Linked DNA regions of Homo sapiens: region 2 is linked to region 1. Evidence: fine-mapped expression QTL. Tissue or cell type: whole blood. Region 1 holds a variant in brackets; the other region holds the start of a gene. All regions are shown on one strand. Distances are from middle to middle.

Region 1 (8,189 bases):
ACGGTCTCTGGCTGAGGAAATTTAGCAGTAAAACATGCACTGAAAATTATGTCTTAAAAAGGTTAATTGAGTTTTGGTGTTAAGGTTTAGAGGTAAAATTAATCTAATTAAAAGGGACCAAAAAGGCAATGGCTCTCAACCCTGGTGGCACAAAGAAAAATTTTGAATGCCTTGACCATTTCTCCAAAATTCTGATTTAATTGACCTAGGGAGGGTGTCTGAACATAGTCCTACTCCTCCCTTCCTTCATTTTTTACTTCCTTTCTTCTTCTCTCTCTTTCTGCAGCTATTTGGATGTGAGGTGATAAGGGCCTGAAATAGAATAGTAGCAATCAAAATGGAGAATAAATTTACATAAAGAGACATTGTTAAGGGAAAAAAATGACAGCTATCTTGACTAATAAAACCTAGCTGAACTTAGGAAAAAAATCTTTCACACATCAATGAAAACTACCGTCTTACAAGGCTAGCGGTCTATTTTTCTGTTAGAGAAAAGAGAGACAATGATGGTTAACAGTAAATTAACCAAAATATTTACTAAATCACAAATTAGTATCAATAACAACAGAAAGCCCCCTCCTACCTCAAATTTCTCACTTACTTGTTTGAAAAAACCTTCTGGCTCCCCATTGGCTCTGGTAAATTCTAATCCCCTTAAGCTGTCATGTAGAGCTTTTCTTTTATTTTTTTATTATACTTTAAGTTCTGAGATACATATGCAGAACCTGCAGGTTTGTTATATAGGTATACATGTGCCATGGTGATTTGCTGCACCCATCAACCCCTCATCTACATTAGGTATTTCTCCTAATGAAATCCCTTCCCTTACCCCCTACCCCCCAACAGGCCCCAGTGTGTGATGTTCCACTCCCTGTATCCATGTGTTCTCATTGTTCAACTCCCACTTATGAGTGACAACATGTTGTGTTTGGTTTTCTGTTCCTGTGTTAGTTTGCTGAGAACGATGGTTTCCAGCTTCATCCATGTCCCTGCCAAGGGCATGAACTAATCCTTTTTTATGGCTGCATAGTATTCCATTGTGTTTATGTGCCACATTTTCTTTGTCCAGTCTATCATTGTTGGGCATTTAGGTTGGTTCCAAATCTTTGCTATCATCAGAGTGAACAGGCAACCTACAGAATGGGAGAAAATGTTTGCAATCTATCCATCTGACAAAGGACTAATATCCAGAATCTACAAGGAATTTAAACAAATTTATAAGAAAAAAACAAACAACCCCATCAAAAAGTGGGCAAAGAATATGAACAGACAATTCTCAAAAGAAGACATTTTTGTGGCCAACAAACATATGAAAAAAAGCTCATCATCACTGGTCATTACACAAATATAAGTCAAAACCATGATGAGATAGCATCTCACACCAGTCAGAATGGCAGTCATTAAAAAGTCAGGAAACAACAGATGCTGGAGAGGATGTGGAGAAATTGGAACACTTTTACACCGTTGGTGGAAGTGTAAATTAGTTCAGCCGTTGTGGAAGATGGTGTGGTGGTTCCTCAAGGATCTAGAACCAGAAATGCCATTTGACTCCAGCAATCCAATTACTGGTATATACCCAAAGGATTATAAATCATTCTACTATAAAGACACATAACTGGATGGAATATCAACGCAGAGGAAATTTAACCTTGATCGAAATGTTTTTAGCCGAACAATAAATGTGGAGATTTACTATTGTTGATGATGATGTCATTATGAATTCATACATTAGAAATGTAACTCAAGTGAAAAGTGAACTTATATAGGATTCATTTGGAATGAATAGGAAAATATATTGAGATGAATGGGAAAATAAGCCTATATCGGATTCATTTGGAATACATTGGAAAAATCAGAGCAGAAACTCTTTCCAAGAAAGAGACAATGGACATCATGGGAACAGTGTTGTGAGAAAAAAAAATTCTACTGGATTCAAGAGATATTTGTAATGAGCTTACGGAATTTGTGGTGACTTAAATACTTGGTGGGTAGAGAAGGAATGAATGTCACTGAACTTTCCAGTTTGAGAGACTGAAAGAGTGGCACCACCATTTATAATGAATGAATCAATGAGACAATGAGAAATGGTTTGATTGGGAGAGAGTTAGGAAGTTTAGATTAGGATTTGTTTTACTTGAGGTCACTGCAGTAGTTCCTGGAGAAAAGGTCAAATACAGTGAGAAATGTAGAGTACAGAAGGAAGAGTGTTGTAAAGAGAAACAAAGATTTAAAACTTCAAAGCTTATTCATCGTAGTTGTGATCATGAAAATTAATGAAATAAGGGCAGAGAAAGAAATAGAAAAGAAGCTAGAATAGATGTTGAGTTTTGTACCTGACACCTAGTTGATCTTCGAGTCAGATATTAAAATTGAAAGCACAGGCCTATATTTTTAGAAGAAAGCCATAAGAAAGCTTGTGGACCTGTAATTTGTAGATTAACTGTATTTTTAAATAATGACATAGATTTTGCCACATTTAACAAAAAATGTTATCTAAGGAGTTAATTGAAGTAAACTGACAATTCTTAACTTTCTGTGGAATTCAGCCTTGAATGTTAGCATCCAAAAATGTGAGGATTAAAACATTTTATTGAAACTCTAATTAGTTTGAGGTAATTAATAAAATTTTAAGGTAATTAATAAAAATAATAAATATAATAGTTAATAATAAATTTTAAGGTAATGACTAAAATCATTCCAGTGGAAATGATTACCAAATCCCAAGGTCTATTAAATTTTAAGTATGATAGGGTTGGTTATAATATTGATGCTTTCACAATCTTTCTGACTTGACACAAAATCCACAGCTATGTCCAGGAATTCTCATATTTTTAATTTATTTTTATTTATTTTTTTGAGACAAGGCCTCACTATATTGCCAAGTCTGGTCTCCAGTACCTAGGTTCAAGTGATCCTCCTACCTCAGCCTCCTGAGTAACTGGGACTACAGGTGCATGCCACAGTGCCAGACTTCTCAATTTTTTTTAATCCCTGGATTGAAAATCGAAACATAGTACAACATAATGCTAAAAAGCTAAAAAGCTTGTAAATATTTTTTTTTTGAGACAGAGTCTTGCTCTGTTGCCCAGGCTGGAGTGCGATGGCACAATCTCGGCTAACTGCAACCTCTGCCTCCCAGGTTCAAGCAATTCTTCTGCCTCAGCCTCCTGAGTAGCTGGGATTACAGGCGTGCACCACCACGCCCAGCTAATTTTTTATTTTTTTGGTTTTTTTAATTTTTTTAGTAGAGACAGAGTTTCACCATGTTGGTCAGGCTGGTCTCGAACTCCTGACCTCATGTTCCACCCACCTAGGCCTCCCAAAGTTCTGGGATTACAGGTGTGAGCCACCGTGCCTGGCCAATAATTTTTAACTTAAACTTCTGAATAGCTCCTATTATGCTCAAATTTATATATCATCCTTTAAAGTTGCAATCCATTTTGTTTGTTTGTTTGTTTTGTTTATATTTTCTCATTTGTCTTCTTCCTGGGAATACTTATCAAATCTAATGCTAACTAAAGGGATGAGGCATTTGATTCCCCCAGCCATAGGGCAAACACAACTAGTTTTACGTGTACTTTGTGGTAGAAAAATGAGTAAGTACTTCTGAAGACATAGTTGGTTGAAACTTCTCCTTCCAAAAAGATGGAATAGACATACGTTTCCCTATTTCTCACACTAAGTACAACTAAAAACCCAAGACACTATACAAAAATGAACATAAAACTCTGAGAAGTAGAGAGAAGAAAG[C/T]GGGCTAGTAAGGGGGTCTTAAAACCCATAAATGACATGATAATGAGTTCCCTTTCATCCTCTTTATATCATATATCCCAGACTTAAAGCCAGAGATAAGAAGAAAAAAAAAGAAAAAGCCCAAACACAAGTCTGCTGTCTTTGGCCAAAGGACAAATAAAGGAGTTGAATGGAAAGACAGAGAAATTTTAGACAATAACTTCTTACTTCAGCTGACTAGCACCTCAACAAATGCCAACAAAGGCCAAGTAGAACACTTAGACTTCCATCGTCCCCAGTCTGTCATGAGGGTCCCATAACATCTGCCAAGGTGCTGCCAGAGAAGACTGAGTAAGGAGTTGGGACCTTCATAGTCACCACCTACAACCATCTCATGCCCCAGTGAGGGTCAATGGAGAGAGACCACTTGGAGAGCCTGGATTTCCACACCCATCAAGTAGTATGAGCCATCCCTACTTCTCCTCACTAGGGTGATTGTGGAGGCATAGAGAGAGGCAGAACTTTCACCATTGTCCAATGGTAATGGTGTTACTTCTCCCTCTTGGTGTCATGGATACCATAGGGGAAGCATTTAGTACAATGAGTCACTATAACTTCTCCCACTAGGGAGTATCAGTGGAGGCCTAGTGGAGAGCCAACTCTCTTACCTACAATCAGCGATAATGAAGACCCATTCCTCTGGTGTCAATGGAGGTCTAGTAGAGAACCTTGTCATTAACTCCCACTTGGTAATAATTAGCCAGCAATTCCCCATCCCCACCAGCATCGTGTCAGAGGAATCAAGTTAATACAGAGATTTATGTGAGATTCAGTGTTATAATATAAAGCTCAAACTGTACATATTTCTGTCAAAAATTACTTATCATATCAAGAACTAGGAAGATCTCTGAATAAGTGAAGAAAAGACAATCCAAGATGCAAGCTATGAGAAGACAAATATATTAGGATAATCGACCAAATATCTAATGCAACCATTATGAAAACATTTCAATGAGCAATTACAAACATGCTTGAAACAAATGAAACCATGCAAAGTCTCAGCAAAAATATAAAAGATATAAAGAAGAAAAATGAAAAGTTTAGAGTTGAAAAATATTATAATGTAAGAAGCTTAATGGATGAGCTTAACAGCAGAATGGAGGAGGCAAAGGGAAAATTAGTAAATTAGAAGGTAATTAGAAGAAAAATATAAAAATTACCAAATTTACACAACAAAGAGAAAACAGGCTGGAAAACAGTATACCCTTATGGATATGTGGAACTATAATCTGACTTTGGGTCATTGACGACTCAGAAGGAGAGGAGAAAAAGGATGATGCTGAGAAATTAGAAATAGAAGAAATAATGGCTGAAAACTGCCCAAATTTGACAAAAGATGTAAATCTACAGTTCAAGAAGCTGAATGAATCCCAAACAGGATAATCTCTCACACATACACAAAAAAAGCTACATAGTGAAACTTCTGAAAACTAAAGGAAAAGAAAAAAATCTCAACAGTTGTGAGAAAGAAATAATACTTTTCTTTCTAAGGAAAAAACAACTTGAATGACAGTGGATTTCTCACCAGAAACTATGGAAGACAGAAAGAAGTGGCAGATAATTTTTAAAGTGATATAGAAAATAATCTCTTAAGCCAGGATTCTATACCTAGTGAAAATATCTTTCAGAAATGAACAGGAAATTAATATATGTGTAGACTAAAACAAACAAACAAACAAAAAAAAACAGAGGCAATGCTTGCTGGTAGACGTCTCCTAAAAGAACAGCTAAATGATGTTCTTTAAACAGAAAGGAAATAGTTTTGTTTTTTTTTTTAAAAAAAAGGAATGTTCAAATATCAGGAAAGAGGGAAGAACATGGTAAACAAAACTACAAGTAAATTCAATACAATTTTATTCTCCTCTTCTGTTTTCTAAATTATGTTTTATAATTGAAGTAAAAATTATAAAACTACCTGGTATTATTTTAAATCTATGTAGAAAAAAATACTTAAGATAATTGTAATATAAATGTGGGAGTGTAAAAAGATATAAAGAAAGGTAGAGCTTCCAAATTTCACTCAAACAAACAAAATGATGACACTGGTAGACTGTTATAAGTTATCTATACATAATATATAGTAACACCTAAAATAATCATGAAGACAACAATACAAAGAGATATATTCAAAACATTAAAGATAAATAAAAATTGAATTTTTAGAAAGTTTCATAAATGTAAAGGAAAGCAGAAAAAACAGTAAATGAAAAACAAAGAAAACAAATGGAAAACAACAAAAAAAGAGAAACTCAACTCTAGCATATTAATACTTGCATTAATGGCGTAAATGTTCTAAATACATCAATTAAAAGCCAGAGATTGGCAGAGGTGATTAAAAGACATGATCCTGTCTACAAGAAACTCACTTCAAATGCAACAATATAGGAAAGTTAAAAGAAATGAGGGGAAAATACACATCATGCAAGCATTACTCAAAAAAAGCAAGTGTGGCTATAATTATTGCAGATGCAGTAGGCTTCAAAGCAAAGCAAAGCAGCAGAGACAGAGAATGACAAGGGTCAATCAACCAAGAAAATATTGCAATCCTAAATGTGTATCTTAGAATTGAAACAAGAAATAGACAAATCAAGAACTACAGTTAGAGACTTCAACACTCGTCTCAAAAACTGATGGAATAACTGGATATATTATCAGCAAAGAGATAGGACTTAAAAATACCACCAAGAAAGAGAATCAATTCCTTGAAAAACACAAATTACCACAATTTATCTGATACAAAACAGATCACTTGAATAACTCTCTAACTACTAATAAAGTTGAATATGTAGTTTTAAAATTCCTCCCCCAAACCATCTCCAGGCACAGATGGTTTCACTGGAAAATTCAACAAAATGTTTAAAGAAAAATTCACACCGATTCTATACAATGTCTGCCATAAAATAGAAGAAGATGAACGCTTCCAATTAATATTTTGAAGCTAATTCACCTTAAGTCTCACAACTTCTGCAAAAATTAACTCAAAATAGACCATAAACTTAAATGTAAAACATAACAATATAAAAGTTTTAGAAAAAAATACGAACAATCTTCAGGGTTTAGAGCGAGGCAAAGGTTTTTCTTAATTAAGCACCAAAAATAATCCATAAATGATAAAATTGGTGAATTTTTATAAAAATTTAAAACTAATCCTCTGTGAAAGTCTCTTAAATAAATAAAAAGGTAATCTATAGACAGGAGAAAATATTTACAAGTAATATACCTTTCAAAGGACTAATATCTGAAAACTCAAAATCAACAGTTTGAAAAATCTAATTAAAATATGGGCGAAAAAATTGACATTTGATCAAAGAGCATATGGCAAATAAGCACATAAAAAGTTGATCAAGTATTAGCCACTGGAGGAATGCACATTAAAACCACAATGAGAGATATACTAACCAGAATAGCTTGTAACCAAATGATTACAAGGTTATAGGAAAACTGGATCAATCATATGTTGCTGCTTGGAATGTAAAATTATATAGGCACTCTAGAAGACAGGAAGTTTCTTAAAATATTAAACATGCTGCCACCATATGACCCAGCAGCTATAATCCTGGACATTTATCCTAGAGAAATGAAAAGTTTATGTTTACATAAAAACCTTACACAGATGTCCACAGTAGTTTTATGTGTGATAGCTAGACAGTGAAAACAACTCAGATGTTCTTCAACAGGTGAATGGTTAAACAAACTATGGCATATCCCATGTAATGGAATACTACCAACAACAACGTGGAAATTTCCAAAAATAAGAATTACAGCAAAAATTGAGAAGACAATGTAACCCTATAATCTGGACGCTGAAGGTGCTTGATAAAAGCATGTCTATGGAAGCTTAAACTGGCAGAGATGTGTACTATATCCTGGAAATAGGATAATTCTTAAAATTAGTTGTCCATTGTAAAAGTGGAGGCTGATGTGATAATTGCCGCATTATTTCCCCAGGTGATCCCGAAAACAGCTCTGGGGTCTGACCACGTGTGCCTTTTTTAGTTGTTTTGTTTTTTGTTTGTTTGCTTCCTTTTTCCTTTTTTTTTTTTTTTTTAATTTGTACAAATTTAAGGAGTACATGTGCAGTTTTCTTACATGAATAAATCACATAGTAGTGAAGCCTGGGCTTTTAGTGCATTAATCACCCGAATAATGCACATTGTACCCATCAAGTAATTTCTCATCTCCCACCCCTTCCCACCCTCCCGCCCTCCCAAATCTCCAATGTCTATCATTCCCCATTCTATGTTCATGTGTACACATTTTAAGCTCTCACTTATAAGTGAGAATACGCGGCATTTGAATTCTTGTTTCTGCATTGATTGTTTTGCTGAAAATAGTGGCCTCCAGTTTGATTCATCCTTTCACTTCACTTGTAAAGTAGACAAATGGTAAGTTTTGGCCAA
Region 2 (8,189 bases), 73 kb after region 1:
AATTGATACCCAGACATAAGGGAACAGAATTATTGTGAAGGAGAGAAGAATTCATTGCCCCTTTTAATCAATCACTAACCACACTATGTACTTACAAAATCAGAAAGTTCACAAGCAGCTTTTTTCATTACAGAGAGGAAAAGTACTCTCTTGATGTAGAAATGTATATTTTTCTGGATTATTCATTGCATAGAACTCTGTATAACAAAAACAACAGCATAATCAATATCAATAATTGGATGACCTGATTATGTAGAATCTAATTATATAGAAATTTTAAAATTTACATTGACATCATGTTTATGAAACTTTACCAGTAATAATAACAGCAATATCGTTTGCTGAGCAATTACTATGATCAGGAACTATGCCAAGCATCCTATATACATTTTATCCTTCCCACAGCACCTTGAGGGAGAGTTTATGATCCATGTTTTCCAAACAAAGATATTGAGATTTAAGAGGTTAAAAAGCTTCCCCAAGGTCACACAGCTGGATCTGAAAAATCTAACACAGATATTCTGACTCTAAAGCCTTGGCTCTTAACCAATCTGCTATTATTTTCTGACCTCTAAATTAATAGCTCTAGATAATGATTCTGCCATTGAGTTACCATTGATAAAGTTGCAGGACAGAGACTAGATATTTCCTTAATTTAATAAGGGGCAGAAATGAAAAACAGAAGTCTCAGAATTTTGTACAAACCCAATTCTTTTTTTTTTTTTTTTTTTTTTTTGAGACGGAGTCTCGCTCTGTCCACCCAGGCTGGAGTGCAGTGGTGTGATCTCTGCTCACTGCAAGCTCCGCCTCCTGGGTTCACGCCATTCTCCTGCCTCAGCCTCCCAAGTAGCTGGGACTACAGGTGCCCGCCACCACGCCCGGCTAATTTTTTGTATTTTTAGTAGAGACGGGATTTCACCATGTTAGCCAGGATGGTCTCGATCTCCTGACCTCGTGATCCACCCGCCTCAACCTCCCAAAGTGCTGGGATTACAGGCGTGAGCCACCGCGCCCAGCCCAAACCCAATTCTTTAATATCAGTTGCTCAAATGTAGAATTGCAGGTCCCTGATGTCCAAAGACTGTGACAAATTCATTGGCGACTCAGAGGAAGTGGTTGACCCCACGGTAATGCAGAGAGGAGGAGAGTTGTGACTGTGAGTCTGCCAGGAAGGCTGCCCCAGTCTGTGGACTGTTGTGCAGTAGCAGGGTTTACAACTGGGTGAGGTACAAGAGTGGTGTTCAGTTGGTCAAAACAAAACAGAGAAGTAAAAGTTTAACTGCAGGAACAAGTCTCCAGGGAAGAGGAACAACAGCACTTAGAAGTCAACAAAGAATTCTCAAAGTCATCCCCAAAGCAAAGAACCCTGGATCTACTCATCAGCAAAGAAAACCTAAAGAACAAAACTGGGAACCCAATGGTTCACCTGAGATTCTTAGGTATGGAAAAATGGCTAATTCTAAGCTCCACTCACTGGCCAGGCTAGGGGCTATTATGTAATAACATTTTCTTATGTAGAAATCACTATGAAACTGAGCCTGTGACTGAACAGATAGGTGATTAGTGAAGGCTGGCAGAGTAAGAAATGAGGTGAGGGACGACTAAGACTGTATTAACATATTTCAGAAGCCCGAAGCAATGGAAGAGACAATAGAGGTACCTCTGATTTATGTAATTCAAAGTAAAAATGAAAGGAATTTAAACAGAGTATTGTGCTTGTTTTCCCTATGATGAAAACATATTGAGTGCTTTAGTAAAGTATTAAATATTTTTAAAAATCTTGGTAACCTGATCACATGTCTAAATTTTCTATAGACTAGATAAAAAGTAGGGCCTAATTCACAATATTTACACTTGGTCTGAAAATGAGTTTGCTAACAGATCCCCTGAAGGTTTCCTAGGAAATAGTTTGTGAACATCAGAACATCTTTCGAATATATCAAATCTTAGTGATATCCCTGTGGAGTCCCCTGAATGGTTGTGTCGTATTGCTTTGGTTAGATAACAGTGGAGACCCGGTGACTCTTAATTCCAAGTCCAGAGGAAAGAATGGCAATCAATATGGAAGACTGCAATTAAGAAACATTACTGCTATTAGAATGTAAATTACCACCTTCCTCCATTCAACATGTCTTCTTTCCAAAGCCACAGACTGCAGCAGCCTCACTTTTTCCTTTCTTAGAGCCATAGTCTTCCTCAGCCTTGTGCCTGTGATGCAGCCTTTGATAATTCTCGCAATAAAAACTCACTCATGTATGACATTTAGGAGGGAGCAAAAGGTTTGATTTGCCTTGGGGCCCTGGAACCATTATAAAAATGCCTTTAAAGAGAAATGAAAGGCAAAGAAAATTAGGGGCTCAGAAACTGACTGAACCAAAAAGGATGCCAAATCACTAGGCACTAGGCTGCCTCTCCAATAGTTCTAGATAAACAGAAGACCATTTAATATTGTTTTTTTCCCAAGAATCCAAATCAGTCTAAAAGCAGTTTCGATTGGAAAAGAGGAAGAATCAAGTGGCCAAGATGTAGCCTTTCAGTTTCAATGGTCAAAGCAAAAAAAAAAAAAAAAAAAGTCTTAAGACAGACTTTGGGCATCACTGGAGTATAAACATTTAAAGAACAGGGTTCTTGTCACTCCATGTCACAAACATGCCTAAAATTTCAAGAAAATCTCAGCTTTCACTAAGCGGCCCGTCATAGCAATAAGAGGCTACACTCTTTCCACAAAATCTATTCCAGTGAAATATGGCCCACTCACATTTTCATTTAGCTTTCTCTTGGTTCCTTCATTTGGCTGTGTTCTATTTCCTATTGAGTGGAGTCTTTAGTTATAAGCTTTCCTTAGTGTTATTTAGAAGGCAGCCACTTTTCTCTCCAAGCCCCTTTCATTGAGTGTGAGCCAAATATCTGCTACTCACACTGCCTTAAATTCAGGGACTCTAAGTAATTTTTGGTAGAGGACATATTCTAAAAGAGACAGTGACCTTCTGTCTCTCCCCACAGGTCATTCTGTTTATATCCACTAGTAAGTGTAGTCTAACCAAGTTGGTGTGGAAAGTAGCTTCCAAGAAAATTTAACTTATAGCAAGGAAAGAAAAATGTTCTTAGGCAAGAACGATTCCTGCAAATTTTATAAGACGTGAAGCAGCTTAGAGTGTCCTCTACAAAGCCAGTATCCAAGACTGCTGGCAACAGACCCGACTAATTAAAGTGAGGTCCTCATTCAGACGGCCTCAGCATCACTTCAACACTTGCCTACCCCAGGCCTGCTCCAGGTCTATTGAAAAAGAATCTGCAATCCCCATGTGATTCATACTCACATTCATGTTTGAGGAGTATTGGCCTAGAGCAGTGGTTCTCAACCTTCATTGCACATAGGAATCAACCAGGCATCTTAAAAACAAATTAAGGCTGTCTGGGGCCCACCTGCAGAGAGTCAAAGTTAATCAGTTTGGGGGTGTGGCCTAAGCACTGGGATTTTTAAAAACGGCCCAGGAGATTCTGAGGTGCAAGGAGGGTTGAGAGCCACTGGCACAGGGGCAGAAGAGGCTATTTCTTCCATTCCGCCCCCTCTTTGTTGCGGAGGCAAACTGAGGTTCCTGGAGTCAGAATCTATCAGTCGTGGTGACTGCCCTGGTTGCACTGTAAGTATGGGGGGACGTCTCCACGAAAAAAAACTAACTTTCTGCCTTGTGCTCTGCAGGTCCCTCCTTCTCCCACCTTCCCCAAGTAGCTGCTCCTGACCCCCCCACACACCTTGGCAAACGACACCAGTGGCCGATAGCAACTGGTGTTTTAAAAATACTAATTTGGAGCCCCATTTGAGACCTACAACGGGAGAGTCTGCATCAGATTCGGCCTCAGATTCTACAGCATCTGACTACATTCCCAGGTGTGTGTGATGCGCAGCCAGGTTTGGAAGCTAGTGAACTCCACAGTAGGTCTAGCCTTTCACCACGTGAAGTCATTAAGGGTTTGTAAGAATGAATGAGCTGTCAAGAGAGGAAAGGCCTGGTGCAGTGTTCCTTTATTAATTATGAGGAAAGTGATTTATTGGCAATGATAATGCTTCTCTTGGAAAGGGCAAAGAATGGTTCGTCGATTGCTGCATTAGGTTTTTTCCCACTCAACCTTAATGCTCGGCTTTTACTCCTCACTGTAGTTTAAAACCAGCACGCCTTTCACACGAAACAGACTCTGGGTCTTTATTCCCAGGTGAAACGCATCTTTGAGGGAAATACCAACACAGAGACTCTGTCCCAGTTCTTGGCCGGGGGACACCCTCCCCCGAATATCTCTGTTTGCTTGTGTCAGCATCTAGTAGCCAACGTATAGTTGTGCATATCTGATACGTAGAAAAACACAGGGTGAGGATTAAAAAAAAAATCATTGATATATGCCCAGATCCTTTTGCTAAAAGAAAGCTTCCTTTAGCAGAAGGGCAGGAAGTGAGGGAAGAAAGATAGTTGGATTAACAAAGTCAGAGGTGAGAAACGGGTAGGCGAATTGGGGGTCAGGGTTCTGTCTGCGGAAGAGAAGAAGAGGGTTCAAAAGAAAAGTTGCAGCGCCTGTGTGCGCGTGTCATCGATGGGCTGGGTGCGAGAGACAGCGCTAGCGCGCGGCCACAACGCACTGCGGGGCCGAGAGCCGGCAGGAAATCGAAAAAGCTGCTCGCCGGCAGAGGCTGGGAGGCTGGAAGGGCTCCCCACCCGCTCGGTGCTCCAGAAACGCGCCGGCTTTGCCCCGACGCGATCGCCTGGGGAGCCCAAGGGGCGCGCAGGGGGCCCCGGGGCGCCCGGCAGCCGCGGGGCCGAGCGCGCGTGTGAGCGAGTGCGAGGCTGCGGGCGGCGGGCGGGCGAGTGTGCGCGGGAGGGAGGGGGAGCGCGCGCGCGCCCGGGCCCCGGCCCTCCCAGCCTCCCGGCCTCCGCGCCTGCCTCCCGCCCGCGCGCACCGCTGCCCGCTGCCGCGGCTCCCGCTCGCGCCGGCGCTGCACGGTAGTCAGCCCGCCGCCGCCGCCTGCTTTGTGCTTCCCACAGAAGATGGGAGCGACCTCTTCCTGATCGGGAGCTGTTTAAAAGGAGGGAGTGCGCCGTATTTTCTACTAGCGTGGAGGAACGGAGGAAGAATCCATTCACACTCCCCAAACCAGGTAGGATCTTATGATGGACAGGCAGAAGGCATTTAGTCAGAGACCAAGAACTATTTTCCATTTGCTGCTCATAAGGCTACACTTCCCTCTGCTTTGGCAAACGAGCGGCTTCTAAATTTGTGTGTGTGTGTGTGTGTGTGTGTGTGTGTGTGTGTGTGTGTGTGTGATGTGGTGTGTGCGCGCCTGCACATTTTTCTGGGTGTCCGCGCTTCCCAGAGTGAAATTGCTCGGGCTGGTGCGTCTGGGCGTGAGGGTGCCTGCCTGCCTGCCAGTGCAGGCTGCCGGAGGAAGAAAGGGCTGCTAAGGAGAGATGCTGCACCCTGCACCGCGCTGGGCTCTGAGGATTCAGGGCGCGAAGAGCTAAGTCCACCCCGAATGCAGAGCTGCTGGGGATCCAGGCGTCCCCACCCACTGGACTCTTCTCCGCGGACATCCCTCCTTCCGGTAATCCCTGGGGTCTTTCCCCAAGGCCACATTTCCGAGCCCCCTGTTTTCCAGCGGGCGTTGGGTGCTCATTCACCACGGACTGCGGAGAGGAGGGAGGTGTGGCGGGGCAGAGACAGACGAGGAAGAAATGTAGGGGGTAGCAGGGAGTGGGCTGCGGGGTCCACGTCTCTGGGCACTGTGCCGTGGTGTGCTTTGGGGATTCTGCACACACAGGCATCTTTCCCCAAGAGATTGGAAGGGAACTTTGCAGCTGCATTCTCTGCCTCTGGAGCTTTGCTGGCTCTTGGGGGAAATGGTCTGTGTTCTGAGATGTGAAGATATCCTTTTTGGCTCCTCCTTAATGAAGAAGAGGGCGGTCTTATAGCTGGACAGCCGGCCAAAGAAACCAAATCCGCCCAGGCGATGCTCTTGAAAATACAGTACGTGTGCATCCTTGATTCTTTAAATCCACCCCCTGCATCACCCCCGCCTCTTCTCTATCCCCCCCACCACCCCGTGGATTCTGTTGCTGTTTGATGAATGGCTTGGGCTGGCAATTTGTATTTCCCTCTCCAAAGTGGTAGTGGTTGAGTTGAGAACAGGGGTGATGAAATTTAACAAAGCATTTTTAGAAGAGAGCAATGTGCATGTTGTACGCAGTCATTGGAAAGTCATGCTTTGCGCTAGGTATCCTTTTGAAGCCCCCGAACCTGGCTCTCCTGAAGCCGCTCTCTCTCTCTCCTGCTAGTCAGCTACTAGTGGTTGTGAATATAACAATACAAACTTTGTCCTGCTGGAGGTGTAAAGACTAAAAAGAGAAAAAAAGGATATCAGTGGGAGGTGTAGTGGAAGAAGCTTTTTAAAAAATGACAGATGTGGTGAAGACAGTACAAGCGTCCTGATCATGGAGGAGCCTCTAGCTGAGTAGGTGGAGATTTCTGATCAGATCTGGTTAAAGGCATTGCTGGAGTATCTCCAGATATGAGCAGTTGAACATGCACAATCTGAGACTTGTGCGAAGATTTCCCAAGGGAAAGAGGGAGCCACCAGGAGAGAATTCTGAAAGTATACCTCTCTTTCCCATGCCCCCACCAGCGCGCGCGCGTGCACACACACACACACACACTCACATGCTTTCTCTTTCTCTCTCAAAGCTACTCCTGCAGCGAGTCAGAAAAAAAAAGGAAAATGAATCTAGATGTTTCATTCATTTCAAATAAGAAGACAAAGCCGGAAGAGGGATGATTGGTTTTAGGTTCCTCTTTCAAATCCTGTGTTACTTGGATTGAGCTCCCTGGGTTTGCTAAACTTGCTTAATTGGGAGGTTAGGCGGGTGTGAAAGCAGGAGGAAGGAAGGGAAAACTAGCTCCATCTTTGGGGCCTTGTGAGTGAGAAGGTGGGGGAGGACCAACTTATTTCATCAAGAGGCAAGATGTGTGCTCTTAAATGGTTTTCGTTTTACAAATTCTGCCTGCTTGAAGAATTCCATTTGGATCTCACGGCTCTTTAGCTAAGATTTCTCACACCTGCTATAAAAGAAGCCCTGATTTTGTCCCCTTAAAATGGTTGTTGTCTTTTTTTAAAAAAATGATTAATTCCTAGAAAAACAACAGCAACAAAAAGGACTGAACAGAGATAAACCATTATTTATTGTTGAGCTGTATAGGGCTACAAAGGATGTAAGAGTGTCATGATAATCAGACTTTACTGTCTTGAAAGCTTAACAGGGCTGAAGGAGGAGAGTAATGAACTAAAATATGAAGGCTTATTTTCTATGTATCTATCTACCTATGTCTTTACTTTAATATTATTATATAGTGGTTCCTACTGTAACGTTTCAGATTAAGCACATAGCCCTTTTGTTGACCAGGGGAAGAAAAGAGCATGGGAGTAACAGTGCTTTGACTCCCAATAAAATTACAAATGGAAAGTGAGGTATAGTCAGTAACATCTATAGGACTATTTGCAGGAATTATGTTAATTGCTCTGTTAAGCTTTCTGTGTTTTGAAAAAATAAAATATATTCCAAGAGAACTTCAGCATCTGTTAAAAAGCTATGTTTAACATGCTTTTGCCAGGCAAATATAGACTTTTATTTACTTGCAAAATAAACACATGATTCCTCTTAGTATTCAATCTATTTCTTTGACAAAATAAATGATGAGAAAAGCTGTGCAGATCCAAGGAAGTTGCAATTCCCCTTTAAAAAGCCAGCCAAGGCATTCATTTAGCTCATAGATGTGGTTGTCTCAAAGTAAGTGCATTTTGGGACATTAATGTCTGTGTGTTTTTTTTTGTTGTTGTTTTTTGTTTTTTGTTTTTTTTTTTTAATGTTGCAATTCAGTGAGACAAGTTCTTTCTTTGTGATGCCTTTTAGGTACAGGGAGGATAGTATATAGATAAGAAGGAGACTGCCCTAAAAATATGGCAATAAACAAAATTCAAACTGAAATATAAATTAGATCTGGAAAAAGAAATGCAGCCTCTAGAAGAGGCTGTTAGAGCACATATGTTGCATGTTTTATATTTTCGTAGTATGTTGCTTTCAAGTAAACATTAAATTGTCACTTTATATTTGCTAAGAATTTAGGAATCAACATGCTATTATCTCTCT

The links. PIP is the estimated chance that this variant, and not a neighbour inherited with it, causes the effect.
Region 2: SLC8A1 starts here. The variant in region 1 is fine-mapped to the expression of SLC8A1 in whole blood (TOPMed, PIP above 0.99).

Annotation. Positions count from the first base shown.
Region 1 is chr2:40,522,294-40,530,482 of GRCh38, reverse strand. All of the region lies in intron 1 of LOC101929667 (a long non-coding RNA gene), which reads right to left. Among named protein-coding and RNA genes, the nearest start is that of SLC8A1, 74 kb to the right of the region's middle. The variant C/T (reference allele first, on the strand shown) is at 3,751.
Region 2 is chr2:40,448,864-40,457,052 of GRCh38, reverse strand. SLC8A1 (solute carrier family 8 member A1) reads left to right here and starts at 4,963. Exons shown (of 11, transcript NM_021097.5): 1 at 4,963-5,149.